4 linked regions of the Homo sapiens genome follow. The protein of the gene in region 1 purifies or fractionates together with the protein of each later gene. This does not show direct contact. Each region holds a gene or a part of one and is shown in the gene's direction. Other genes may lie near its edges.

The links. The genes of interacting proteins can lie anywhere in the genome.
Region 2: the proteins of ING2 (region 1) and SUDS3 purify together in Homo sapiens (affinity purification with mass spectrometry; 3 studies listed by BioGRID and IntAct, with this or other methods). This does not show direct contact.
Region 3: the proteins of ING2 (region 1) and TARS3 purify together in Homo sapiens (affinity purification with mass spectrometry; 2 studies listed by BioGRID and IntAct, with this or other methods). This does not show direct contact.
Region 4: the proteins of ING2 (region 1) and SIN3B purify together in Homo sapiens (affinity purification with mass spectrometry; 2 studies listed by BioGRID and IntAct, with this or other methods). This does not show direct contact.

Annotation. Positions count from the first base shown.
Region 1 is NC_000004.12:183,510,432-183,513,007, forward strand, and holds the end of ING2 (inhibitor of growth protein 2), read left to right. Parts: coding exon 1-521; 3' UTR 522-1,998; downstream 1,999-2,576. UniProt on the Homo sapiens protein: Seems to be involved in p53/TP53 activation and p53/TP53-dependent apoptotic pathways, probably by enhancing acetylation of p53/TP53. Component of a mSin3A-like corepressor complex, which is probably involved in deacetylation of nucleosomal histones.
Region 2 is NC_000012.12:118,411,012-118,414,651, forward strand, and holds part of SUDS3 (sin3 histone deacetylase corepressor complex component SDS3), read left to right. Parts: intron 1-61; coding exon 62-146; intron 147-3,323; coding exon 3,324-3,422; 3' UTR 3,423-3,640.
Region 3 is NC_000015.10:101,679,377-101,683,016, reverse strand, and holds part of TARS3 (threonine--tRNA ligase 2, cytoplasmic), read left to right. Parts: intron 1-3,640. UniProt on the Homo sapiens protein: Catalyzes the attachment of threonine to tRNA(Thr) in a two-step reaction: threonine is first activated by ATP to form Thr-AMP and then transferred to the acceptor end of tRNA(Thr).
Region 4 is NC_000019.10:16,867,355-16,870,994, forward strand, and holds part of SIN3B (paired amphipathic helix protein Sin3b), read left to right. Parts: intron 1-2,105; coding exon 2,106-2,721; intron 2,722-3,640.

The DNA of each region.
Region 1 (2,576 bases):
TCGAATTGGTGGAAAATCGGGCAAGACAAATGGAGTTACACTCACAGTGTTTCCAAGATCCTGCTGAAAGTGAACGAGCCTCAGATAAAGCAAAGATGGATTCCAGCCAACCAGAAAGATCTTCAAGAAGACCCCGCAGGCAGCGGACCAGTGAAAGCCGTGATTTATGTCACATGGCAAATGGGATTGAAGACTGTGATGATCAGCCACCTAAAGAAAAGAAATCCAAGTCAGCAAAGAAAAAGAAACGCTCCAAGGCCAAGCAGGAAAGGGAAGCTTCACCTGTTGAGTTTGCAATAGATCCTAATGAACCTACATACTGCTTATGCAACCAAGTGTCTTATGGGGAGATGATAGGATGTGACAATGAACAGTGTCCAATTGAATGGTTTCACTTTTCATGTGTTTCACTTACCTATAAACCAAAGGGGAAATGGTATTGCCCAAAGTGCAGGGGAGATAATGAGAAAACAATGGACAAAAGTACTGAAAAGACAAAAAAGGATAGAAGATCGAGGTAGTAAAGGCCATCCACATTTTAAAGGGTTATTTGTCTTTTATATAATTCGTTTGCTTTCAGAAAATGTTTTAGGGTAAATGCATAAGACTATGCAATAATTTTTAATCATTAGTATTAATGGTGTATTAAAAGTTGTTGTACTTTGTCTGTGACCTTAATTTTCTGCACTGAGTTACCAAATATTTCCAACCAGGTAGTCTTCAGATCACCTGATGAAAGGAGCAGGGAACAGGAAGAGGGTGGTGTAAACATTATAAAAATTTCACAAACCATGCCTATTTCATTTTCACTTAAAACTGCAATGTTATTTTTTGGGTAAACACAAAAGTTTCACTAGCATTTTAGTTATACATGCTTAAAAAAATGTTAGATGTAGTGGGATTTCTCTTAAGCATCAAATGATCTTGGGTACTTTAAAATACAGACACTATGCCATTTGAGCTGCTTTTTCCCTAGTCCTATTTATACGTTGGCTTGTTCATCTCTAGTCTTCTAGGAGTTTAAGGAACTGGAGATAAGAGTAATTTGGGATTCCATGTGGAATAATGTGCTCTTATGAGAGTACGTGCTGCTGTCTTTTGCTTAGTAGCATTTTGATCCACTGTCAGTAGCCCATTTGTCAATGCCTTGCTGCTGCTTTGTAGATATACTTAGTCTAGTGCTTAATAAGGGAGTTGTTTTGTGTTTTCTTTTAATTGGGACAGGTAAGAGTAGTTAGCATACCAAAAATATACATTGGCTTACATTGGCAAACTTTGGGTTATATAGTATCACGGCTCAAGGTTGAACAATTTAAAAATACATCTTAATTAATAGTATTTTCCATGTGACCTGCTGCCAGGATGCGTAGCCACAGGCCTATCAGTGGAAAGGGGCATATAGTAGTCTTTAAATATTGCCTTTATGTCAGAGAGTTGTTTTAAATGGTTTTGCTAGTGGTTATTGTTCATTTCTGTCCCAATCAGTGACTATTTTAAATAATAGTGTATTTACTGTCTTAACTTCTAGTATTGGTGCTGTTTGATGTTTTCACATTTAATTAACTTATTTCATCATCATAATGCAATTAATGTATTTGTAAATTGAATTTTCCAAGATTCTGATATTTGAAGGGTAAGCATCTTGATGGATATATGTCCATATGTTTAGAGAAGGTTTTGGTTTTGGGGGCAGCAGATTGACTAGTTCTTTAAATCTGTGTGTAACGTATGTTTTATTCCTCATTTCTTCCTAATCTGATGATCTTGATTCTTTTTGATTAACATGAAAAATCCTGTCTGCTTGTTTTGGGAAAAAAAAATGCTTTTTTTCTCTTCTAGCTCTCCTGTGTGACTTTTAGGCATGTCATTTCACCTTGTCTGGGTGTCAGGTCATTCACCTGTAAAATGAGTTGGCTTAAATATCTCCGAGATTCCTTGGAAATTTCTACTATTTGCACTATAGTGAGGATTTTAATAATGACATGACTTCTCTTTTCATTAATTTTGTCCTTCATTCTGAGGTATAAAGATAGTTTAAAGGTGAGTTTGGAGATGGGTAAATGTGCAATATTTGTTAGCTTCTGTCCTAAGAATATTTGGATTCATGACTAGAGCTAGTTGATTCTATTACCTTTTGAGTGAGAAATGTTAGACAGCATGATTAAGAATTTAGCAAATCCTTTCTCATCACCATAACTTAGCTGAGTTGTAAGGAAATCCTTTTGAGAATATGGCATTTTGTTTTAGTGATTACAACCTTGTTACCAGAATGGAGCTTTTTACTTGACACCATTAAAAATATCAGTATGGACAAAACCCCCAAAGCCTTCAGATGCGACTTACATAGAAGTCACCACTTTTTCATACGTAAATCTGCCTTGGCAGATGGGAGAAAAGAAACGACTTCCTAATAGAAATGCCAAAGTTTGGATTAGACTTGACGGGAAAACGAACCTGGAAAATCCTGGAAGGTGTGCTCTCTTTAAGACCTAATATCTGAAACAGTTTTATGACTTTTTTGTTTTGTTTTCTACACATCTTGGAAATAGAAGTCTTAAGCATGCGTAGCATTAGGA
Region 2 (3,640 bases), on another chromosome or scaffold:
TGGTTTTTACTTCCTGTCTCTGTCCCTCCCTTTTTAAAAATGTGTGCCTTGTTTTTGTCAGGTACCACAAGAGCCAGGCCATCTATCTGGAGTCAAAGGACAACCAGAAACTGAGCTGCGTGATCAGTTCTGTAGGAGCCAATGAGGTGGGAACCACACTCCCTCACCTTTAGGGAAGCAAAATGTGTACTGCGAAGTGTTGGTAGGGCAAACCTGAAATGAAAGTGCCACCAAGGAAGTACAGTGGAGTACTGTCTTCTATGTGGGTTAGATTCTAAAGTCAGGCAGAAATTGCACATTGTCAAAATCATCCTTGAAAAGTCCTTACATTCGCTTGACTACAACATATGCGGATTTGTCTATTCCATGGGGTATTTGTGAACTCCCGGTACAGCTACTGATTTGGGAACCACGGAGCTAGATTCCAGGAAAGAACAAAAAGCAAGTCTGTGTGGTGTCTGTACATTCAACTCCTGCTTCTTTTTTTTTATTTTTATTTTTTTTGAGACAGAGTCTCACTCTGTTGCCCAGGCTGGAGTACAGTTGTGCTATCTTGGCTCACTGCAACTTCCACCTCCCAGGTTCAAGTGATTCTCCTGCCTCAGCCTCCTGAGTAGCTGGGATTACAGGCACCCACCACCACGCCCGGCTAATTTTTGTATTTTTTTTTAAGTAGAGATGGGGTTTCACCACGTTGGTCAGGCTGGTCTTGAACTCCTGACCCCGTGGTCTACCCAGCTCGGCCTCCCAAAGTGCTGGGATTACAGGCGTGAGCCACCACACCTGGCCAACTCCTGCTTCTTTTTAAGGTAACCATCTACTGAGAATGGAGCTTGACTGTGGAGCATACTCCATCTTGGTTTTGTTTCTCTAGAACTTTCACACATACCAGTAGATTTGTTTCTTGCTGTGAGGATTGAATGAGGCACCTGGCACAGGGTCTAGCACCCAGTAAGTGCTCACTAAGTGAGTGCTGGCCTGAAACGACCCACACGCCACTTGCCTGCCGTCTTTCCTAGCTGAGATGTCCTATTGTGCTTCAAAACAAGTTGCCAGGGTTATGCCCTTGGTTTTTGGTCTCCTCGAGACACTCCTTTAGGATGGATGGGGTCTGGTTTTAAAGTCAGCTCAGAGGGTTATACCTGAGGATGATATGACTGCCCTCTGAGTTCTCCAAGTGGTCTTTCATGAGGAGTATATAAGCAATGTGTAACTTATGTTGTTAGTTAAAGTTAAAAACTTTAATAGCTGGATTGGCTTGATCTTTTATCAGTCCACAAATGTCTGCAAAGAAATTGATTTCTATGTGTCTGCCCTCTGTAACTTATTCGTGCCAGTGCACAGTAAATGTAATGAAACTGGATTATGAAGTAACTTAAGCCTCTTCTATTCTTCCAGCTTCCTGAATTGAAAATGCCCTGAAATGTGACTAGTTTGCAAAATGATTGTTTACTTAGAAGTTAGGGAGAGCCTTCTAGATAAATGAATGCCATTCTTCTCTGGGCTGAGGATCCGTGTGAGTCCCCTCAAGCCAAGTCAGAACCAGAACAGGGAAGCTAATAGAGAGACCTGGTCCTCAGCCAAGAGGTGTCACGATTTCATGGTAATCATTTGCACCTGGCTGTCTGGGTTGTTCCACAAGCACATGTGGCCTTCTAGTACCTGACCCTAACTTCAGAACCAGTGCATTATTCTCCTCTATGATACCTCAAGATTTTTCAGAAAAATATAAATGCAAGTTAGATTGTTTTTCCCCTCTCTCTGCCGAATATTGTCGCGTCTTGACATAATAGAGTGTCAGTGAGATCTGACAAATGGTGACACTGAAACACGTCTTCTGGAGGGGAGAAGCTTCAGTGCACTGAAGACATGCAACTCTGGCAATGGGGAAACCGTTCTCATTTCTTGAAAGTGTTCCAGCTCATTTTTCAGATCAAATTCTAGGTGACACTGGAGCTACTTGGCTTTAGCATAGCTTGACTCCAAGCAGGTTTGGTGGGTAGCTCTGAGTGTGTGGATGACTCCCTGACTTAGCTTTTCTTGGGATCAGTTTTTCATTTAAAATGATTCTGCAAGGTCCCTTGGAGGCTTAGCTTCATGTGAGGTCTTTAACTTTTTAAATTTTTAAGCCAGTGTATTTGACTTTAAAGCAGTAGAGATACTGCTGAATAATCACATTAAAGAAATTGAGATGAAACAGAATAAGCTTTTTTAAAACCTGAAAACTGAGTCCAGGAAGGAGGAGATAAATCTGTAAACTTGTATATTTGGGTGAGATGCAGACCTTTCAAAAAACTGTGCTTTTGGCTCTATTTAATTGCATGTTACAGAAAAACAGGCAAGAAGAAGCCAGAGACTGCTTTAGTAGAGAAGAGCCAGGGGCTTTGATGTCAGACACCAGAATTCACGTCGTGATAAGTGACTCAGCCTTGCTGAGCTTTGGTTTCCTCTTCTTTAAAATGGGGCCAATGATAGTAGTTATTTCATAGGGTTGTCTTGCGGGTGAAAAAGCTCAGCCTGATCAGCATGGTGTCTGGCACACAGAGCTCAGTAACCCTGGCTCAGGGGGTCAGGTGACTGGCAGCAGCTCCCCTTCTCACCCATGGCTTTAGGATGCCCCTTATTGAGTGCACTTTGTCAGCCCTGGCAGTCCCCTGTTGCAAGAGTTCATTCTCAATTCAATGGAAGAATGCATCTGCCCTGTAAAATGCACTGTAATCTAATACTGTCTGTGAGAGGGGGATATGGTGAGGAGGGAAGGACTCTCGGAAGTGCTTCAACCTTCTCATGATCCTAATTGGGCCTTAGCTCATTAGTGGGCATTTTTCTATTGTTGATATTTTTTCCCTGTTTTTCTGCACAACCATTAGCCTTCATTGCCAGGAAACCAAAGTATTGAAAGTTTGTATAATATGGAAGTCCCTTGGAGCAAGGAAAATACTTCCAAATTTGAAAGTTTGTGTTTATGAATAGATGTCTCTTGAGTGTTGATAACACAGTAATCAAACCAAATTTAAAAGCATCTTTAAGATCAAGGCAGAAATGGAACCCAAGATTGCTGTGCTTTCCATTTTCGTAATCACAGGTGTGAGAGAGATGGCTGAGAAACGAGTTCAAGGCTGATGCCTGTTCCCAGCGGCATGCCTTTAGATGGCCCGAGGTCAGGGGTGCTTATGAAGCCCTCACAAGTTGAGACAGTTTATTCCAGCAAGAGGCTACCAGCCTTCTGCTTGCATCTCACTCGTGCAGATATTTTGATGGTGTAGGAGATTTGCTCTTCTGTATTTAACTTTTCATCTTGTTCCCTTTCCTCTCCCCTGCAGATCTGGGTGAGGAAGACAAGTGACAGCACCAAGATGAGGATCTACCTGGGCCAGCTTCAGCGCGGGCTCTTCGTGATCCGCCGGCGCTCAGCTGCTTGACTTTCTACAGTGCTCTTCTCTTGACCCTTTTTCTGGAGTGGGTTTTATTTTTGTTTTGTTTCGTTTTCTCCTTAATAGAAAAATGTTAACTTACTGGGAATAGCTACTCAGCCTTGGAAATGGAGAGCACTGCAGTGAATTCTTTAGGGCACTTTTGTGGCCGGATGCTTCCAACTTTGTCAGTCTTTTCTGCCTCAACTTCTTCCAGACATCAGTCA
Region 3 (3,640 bases), on another chromosome or scaffold:
GGAAAAAAGACAAATAAAAATGTCAGGAATGAGACAGATGTCATCACTACAGATTCTGTAGCTGTTAAAAAGATAAGGCAGTTTTATGAATAACTTTATGCTCATACATTTGACAGCTTAGATGAAATGGATAAATCTTTGAAAGACAAAACTATTAAACTTTACTCAAGAAGAAGTAGATCATCTGAATAGCCCTGTGTCTACTACAGAAATTGAATTGATAGTTAAAAACCTTCCTACACAGAAAACTCCAGGCCAAGATGGTTTTACTGGTGAATTCTACCAAACATTAAAGAAGGAATAATACCAATCTAGAGATACTCTTCCAGAAAATTGAAGAGGAGGAAATCTTCACCACCTCATGAAGCTAATGAAGCTAATATTGCTGTGATAGAAAAATAAGACAAAGAAATTAAAAGAAAACTACTGAACATCTCTCATGAACATAAAATCAAAAAATTTAAACAACATTTTACTAAGTCAAATCTAGTAATTTTTTAAAAAGGACATCTTAATCAAATGGACTGAATCCCAGGAATGAAAAGGTAGTTTAACATTAGAAAATGAATCATTGTAATTCCCCACATTCACAAACTAAAAAAAAGAAAACAAACAAAAAGACAAAAAGCATATTATCTTCTCAGTAGATGCAGGGAAAAGTATTTGGCAAAATTCTACATCCATATCTCATAAAAACTCTCAAAACTAGGAATGGAAGGGAACTTTCTTAACCTGATAAAAGGCCTCTATGAAAAACCTACAGCTAACCTCATACTTAATAGTGAGAGTCTGAATGCTTTACTCTTAAAATCAGATATTAGGTAAGGATTATCTCATTACTTCTCTGATCATTGTACTGCAGGTTCTTTCTGATGCAGTAAGTTAAGAAAGAGAAATAAAAAACACCTAGATTGGAAAGAATTAAAACTCTTGTAAATGACATGATCATCTATGTAGAGATCAGATGGAATCTACAGAAAGCTATTAGAAGTAAGGTGAATTTAGAAAAATTGTAGTATGGAATATCAACATACAAAAATGAATTGTATATGCATTTCATAATAATAAACCCTTGGAAATTGCAAATAAGAAACAATTTGTAATAGCATCTCAAAACATATGATAGTACTTTGGGATAAGACTGACAAATATGTTGCTATGGACTGAATTGTGACTCCCAAAATTTATATGTTGAAGTCCTAACCCCCAATGTGATGGTGTTTGGAAATGGGGCTTTTGGGAAGTAATTAGGTGTAGATGAGATTATGAAGATGGAACCCTCATGATACGATTAGTGCCCTTTTAAGGAGATGCCAGAGGCTTTCTGATTCTCTCTGCCGTGTGAGGACACAGTGAGAAGTCAGCCGTTGGCAAACTAGGAAGAAAGCCCTCACCAGGGAACTGAATCAGCTGGCACATTGATCTTGGATTTCCCAGCCTGCAGAACTGTGAAGAATAAATGATTCTTATTTAAGCCACACAGCCTATGGATTTTTGTTCTGGCAGCCCAAGCTGAGTAATACATACATACACAACCTATACAGTGAAAACTTTAAAACATTGCTGAGATAAATTTAAAGAAGGCCTAAATAAATGAAATATACCTTGTTCGTGGTTTGGAAGACTAAATATTATTAAAATATCAGTTATCCCCAAGTTGATCTATAAAGTCAGTACAATCCCAGTCAATACCCAAGCAGACCTTTTTTCCCTGTAAGAGTTGACATGCTGATTCTAAAATTCGTATAGAAAGCACAAGAACCTAGAATAGCCAAAAGAACTTTGAAAGATAAAAACAAATTTGGAAGAGTCACTATGCTTGGTTTCAAGAATTATGAGAAACTACAGTAATCATGCTGGTCTAGATAGATAAATCAGCAAAACAGAGTCTAGAAATAGACACAAATATATGGACAACTGATTTTTAATTAAGATTCGAAGGCAATAAAATGGAGGAAAGGTAATATGTTCAACAAATGATGCTGGAATGATTGTGTATCCATATGCAAAACATGAGGTATGAGGATTCATACCTCATACCATATGAAAAAATTAAGATGAATCACAGGCCTAAATGTCAAACATAAAAATACAAAACTTCTAGAATAAAAATTGGGGAAAATCTTTGTAATTAGGTGATAGGTGATGATTTCTCAGATATGACACCAAAGGGCAATCCATAAAAGAAAAAAGTTGATAAATTGGATTCCTCAAAATTTAAAACTTCTGCTCTTCAAAAAATACTGATCATAGACAGGAAAGACAGGTTACAGACTGGGAGAAAATATTTGTGAGGCATATATCAAATAAAGGACTTGAATCCAGAATACTTAACAAATATTCAAACCTCAATAAGAAAACAGACAACCCAGTTAAACAATGAGCAAAAAAGACCTGCTTTGGGGAAGATGAAGCAGGTGCTTTCCCTTTCCTTCCCTCTAAGAACAAGTAAAAACCTTGGATATTACATATAAAACAAACACGAGACTCTGAAAGGTGTTGAGAAAAAGGGCACACTGGCTATGGACATCAGGACCTAAGAAACAACATGGTAGTGAGTTCCTTAGGTGTTTTTGTTTTGTTTTGTTTTGCCACATATATTCCAGACTTGGCAACCAACAGATGCCAACAGGCATCGATAAAACAGGCCAACAGAAGTCTGCTTGCTGTAGCCAAAGGACTAGGAAAGGGGCAGCCTAGAAAGATAGAAAAGTTTTAGACAATATCTACTCTATTTCAACCAGACACCACAGAAAAAACTGTGGCCCTTTATATGCCAGCTAAGGCTGATTGAGAAGCTTATATTTTAACTCTCAGCAGGCTCTAAATAAGTACCTCAATACCTGTTGGAATGGGTAAGAGAAGGCTTATTAGGAAGCTGGGAATTTTACTCCTGCATTAACAAGATCCCATCCCCCTCCCCCAACCCAGCAGTGTCAGTGAAGACTATGTGGGGAGCCTGGACTTTTGCCCTCCCCTGGAAGTAATGAGGTGCCTCTTCCAGTCCTGCTTGAGTAGTGTCAGAAGACGTCTAGTGGAAAGATAAGACTTTCTCACTGCCAATTGGTCATGAGGCCATGCTTTCTGTGTGCAGTAAAGGCCATGGAGGGGGGCTAGAACACCTGTGCAACCCAGAAGTAACGAGGAGCTCCTCTCCCCTTACTTCCTTTCTAAAAGGAGCTTGGACTGCTTTTCCCACTTGCCAGTAACTGTCCAGTACTGTCCTCCCTCTGCTGGAAGAGTGTCAGTGGAAGTCAGCTAAAACAACATTTAAGATCCAGAGGCTTACTATAAAACCGAAAATGTCCAGGTTTAAGAAATTGAAAATCACTCATCATGCTAAGAACAAGAAAAATCTCAACTTGAATTTAAAAAGACAATCTATGAACGGTAACACTGAAATAACAAAGATGTTACAATTATCTGCCAGAGATTTTAAAGCAACCACCATAAAAATGCAATTACTAACTAATGAGCAATTACTAACACACTTGAAACAAACAAAAATTACAAAGTCAGCGAAGAAACAGAAAATCTCAGGAAAGAAATAGAAGATATAAAGAAGAACCAAATGGAAATTTTGAACTGAGAAATATAATATTCAGTGAATAGATTCATGAGCAGAATGGTGAAGACAGAC
Region 4 (3,640 bases), on another chromosome or scaffold:
CACTGCAGGCTCACAAGGCCTGAGTCATAGAACCAAGGCCAGCGGGGCCCTCAGGTTGCCAGGAGCTGGGCCTGTTAGTAGCTGTGTGTAGGGAGTGCCTGCTTGCAGGATCCTGAGGTGGGAAGCTTGGCAGGGTGCCGGGCGTGGTGATAGCCAGCTGTCGGGAAGGTCCTTGGACACTCTGAGGAGGTGGCTTAGGAGGGCACACTACTCCCCAGGCAGTGCCCAGATCATGGCACGGGCTGCGTTATCAGCCTGGTGCCCACCTGGGCAGGGGGTGTTGCCTCACCTGATTTGGTTTCTTGCTCCTGTCACTGCACAGTGAGCGGTCGCTCCTTCTTTTACAACACAGAAACGGAATCCACAGGAGCCGGGCTGCTGGCCCAAGGCCTCTCCCAGAGCCTGTGGGACTGTGGGGACCCCCTTCCCTCCCACCTCCCTTCCCGTGGGCCACCCTCGCCCCAGGCCCACCCACAACCACTCTGGCTTCCTCACTCTAGTCCTCGGCGATCCTCAAGCCCAAGACCCCGTATAGGTTCTGTGGGTCTGTGGTGTCTGCAAAGTGCAGATGATGAAGTAGCCCTGGAAATCCACCAATGCGACCCTGAGTTCCTGGATCCCTCCCTGGGGCTGGGGCTGACAAAGGGAGGGGCACCAAGGTTCATATGCAGATCTCTGCACATGCAGGTCCTTGATGAATTCCAAAGTCAGAACCCCATTCCATCACGTGATTTACAAAGCATGGTTACAGATCATGGACATGGGGACCCTGCTTCAGAGGGGACTGTAAAGGAATTTTCAGAGTGTTTATGGCATAAATGAGACCTGGGGGACTTAGGAAGCAGTCAGAGGGCGATGGTCACACTGAAGAGCCCAGAGCAGGGCTGAGCGTGCAGACTCCTAGGAACCAGGTCAGTGTGCTTGGCCCTACCAGCCTCTAAGCCGCCTTGCAGGGGAGGAGGAAGGGAAACCTCAGGCTGCTAGGAGACCCGGTCCTTCCCTCGGGAGCCTGCAGAGATGGCATCCACGCTCATTTTCCCCAAGAGCCCTGCTGCGTCTGCCTCCCTGCCTTGGACTGAGGGGGTTGGGGCTGCCCAGCAGAGGCCCTGGGTGCCAGGACAGTGGTGTGGGAGGCTGGAGGAAGGGGTGATTGTCTAATGGTGTGAGGGAATGAAAGTCATGATCTAGATAAAGACCAAGGGGAGGGGTGAGCCTGGGACAGGGTTTTCCAGGGAGTGAGAGCAGATGGGCATGTGCAAAGGCCCTGCACACGCAGGAGGGAGCTTGGCGCGGTGAGGCTGGAGGAGCTGTGGAGGGGCACATCAGGGGCCGGCGTCTTCTGAGCAGCCTGGGAAAGCCTGAAGGGCATTAGTTGGGGTGACCATGCTCCTGTGGGCCAAGTCACCCTGGACCCAGTGAGGAGAGTGGTTGGAGCAGGCTGGTGGGAGCTGGTGGGAGGGCTGGTGACATGATGGTGGTAGCAAGCACGTGCAGGGGCTGGCGGGGACAGCAGCGGAGGCGGGGGCTTGGTGACGATGGGCGTGCAGGTCTTCAGATGTGAGCAGTTGCAGGCCTTCCGGGTAGTAGATGGAGGGCAGAGGCAGAGAGGTCACGGCTCACCCTTTGCCTCCTTGACTTCATCGATAGCATGGTGTGGGCAGCCCCGGTCGAGCTGGAATCAGGCGCCACCGTTGCTTTCAGTAGGAGGAGGTCAGCCTCAGAGGCTTCTCCATGCTGAGCCACGGGGCCCCGTTCTGTCCTGGAGCTGGGCTGAGCGACAGACCCAGGCTTGACGCTGTCAGACCCCCTGTGAACCCCGCCCCACATCTCAGAATCCTCTTGGCTCCTTTGTCTGGGGTCCCGGGATGACTTGGGTCTGCCTCACTTTCGGAGAGGGGACCAGGAGCACATGGGGCTGCACAAGAGGTTGAGGCAAGCGACCTACCCCCCAGGCCCTGCTGCCTCACCGATGTTCGCCACCCATCCTGCTCTGGGCAGCGCTCATCCACCTTGGTGGCCCAGTTAACAGCGAGTCGTGAATGGGCACTGGGGGTCCTCTGGGTGCTGGGTGGCTTTCCACCTAATGGCCGCCCTTCCCCCCACAGCACCAGGAGCAGCACTCGGAGGGCCGCAGTGCCCCCTCTAGCGAGCCGCACCTCATCTTTGTGTACGAGGACCGGCAGATCCTGGAGGACGCAGCAGCGCTCATCAGCTACTACGTGAAGCGGCAGCCGGCCATCCAGAAGGAGGACCAGGGCACCATCCACCAGCTGCTGCACCAGTTCGTGCCCAGCCTCTTCTTCTCTCAGCAGCTGGACCTGGGCGCCTCCGAGGAGTCAGCTGATGAGGACCGGGACAGCCCCCAGGGGCAGACCACAGACCCCAGTGAGCGGAAGAAGCCGGCGCCAGGACCCCACAGTAGCCCCCCAGAGGAGAAGGGGGCCTTCGGGGATGCCCCGGCCACTGAGCAGCCACCCCTGCCGCCCCCAGCCCCGCACAAGCCCCTGGACGATGTCTACAGCCTATTTTTTGCCAACAACAACTGGTACTTCTTCCTGCGCCTGCACCAGACCCTGTGCTCCAGGCTGCTGAAGATCTACCGCCAGGCGCAGAAGCAGCTTCTGGAGTATCGGACCGAGAAGGAGCGGGAGAAGCTGCTGTGTGAGGGCCGCAGGGAGAAGGGCAGCGACCCCGCCATGGAGCTGCGGCTGAAGCAGCCCAGTAAGGCTCCAAAGCCTGCCGGGAGGCCCCGGGGGGTGCCTGGGGTTAGGGGTCACAGCTCATGATCTGACATGTCCTGTTACTTTTCTTTCTGGCTTTTCATTTTAAGAGAATTCTGTGATTTCAAATGGGAAATTGCAAACAGGAAGTTGCCAGCATAAGACAGAGGTCTCACGTACCCCTCGCCCAGGCTCCCCTGGCCGTGGCACCTGTCCTGGGTGTAGCACCCTCTCCTGACTGGGGAACATTTGTTTCTCATGGGCTTTCTCGTGGAGCCGTCATGGCCCAGCTCCACAGTACCCTTTTTCTTTCTTTTTTTTTTTTTTTGAGATGGAGTCTTGCGCTGTTGCGCAGGCTGGAGTATAGTGGCAGGATCTCGGCCCACTGCAACCTCCACTTCCCAGGTTCAAGTGATTCTCCTGCCTTAGCCTCCCAAGTAGCTGGGATTACAGGCGCTCACCACCATGCCTGGCTCATTTTTTGTATTTCTTTTTTGAAATGGAGTCTTGCTCTATTGCCCAGCCTGGAGCACAGTGGCATGATCTCGGCTCACTGCAGCCTCCGCCTCCCAGGTTCAAGCAATTCTCTGCCTCAGCCTCTGAGTAGCTGGGATTACAGGCACCCACCACCATGTCCGGTTATTTTTTTTTTGTATTTTTAGTGGAGACGAGGTTTCACCATCTTGACCAGGCTGGTCTTAAAACTCCTGACCTTGTGATCCACCTGCCTCGGGCTTCCAAAGTGATGGGATTACAGGCATGAGCCACCGCGCCCAGCCCAATTTTTTGTATTTTTAATAGAGACAGGATTTCACCATGTTGGCCAACCTGGTCTCAAACTCCTGAACTCAGGTGATCCGCCTGCCTCAGCCTCCCCAAGTGCTGGGATTACAGGCATGGGCCACCATGCCTGGCCTCCA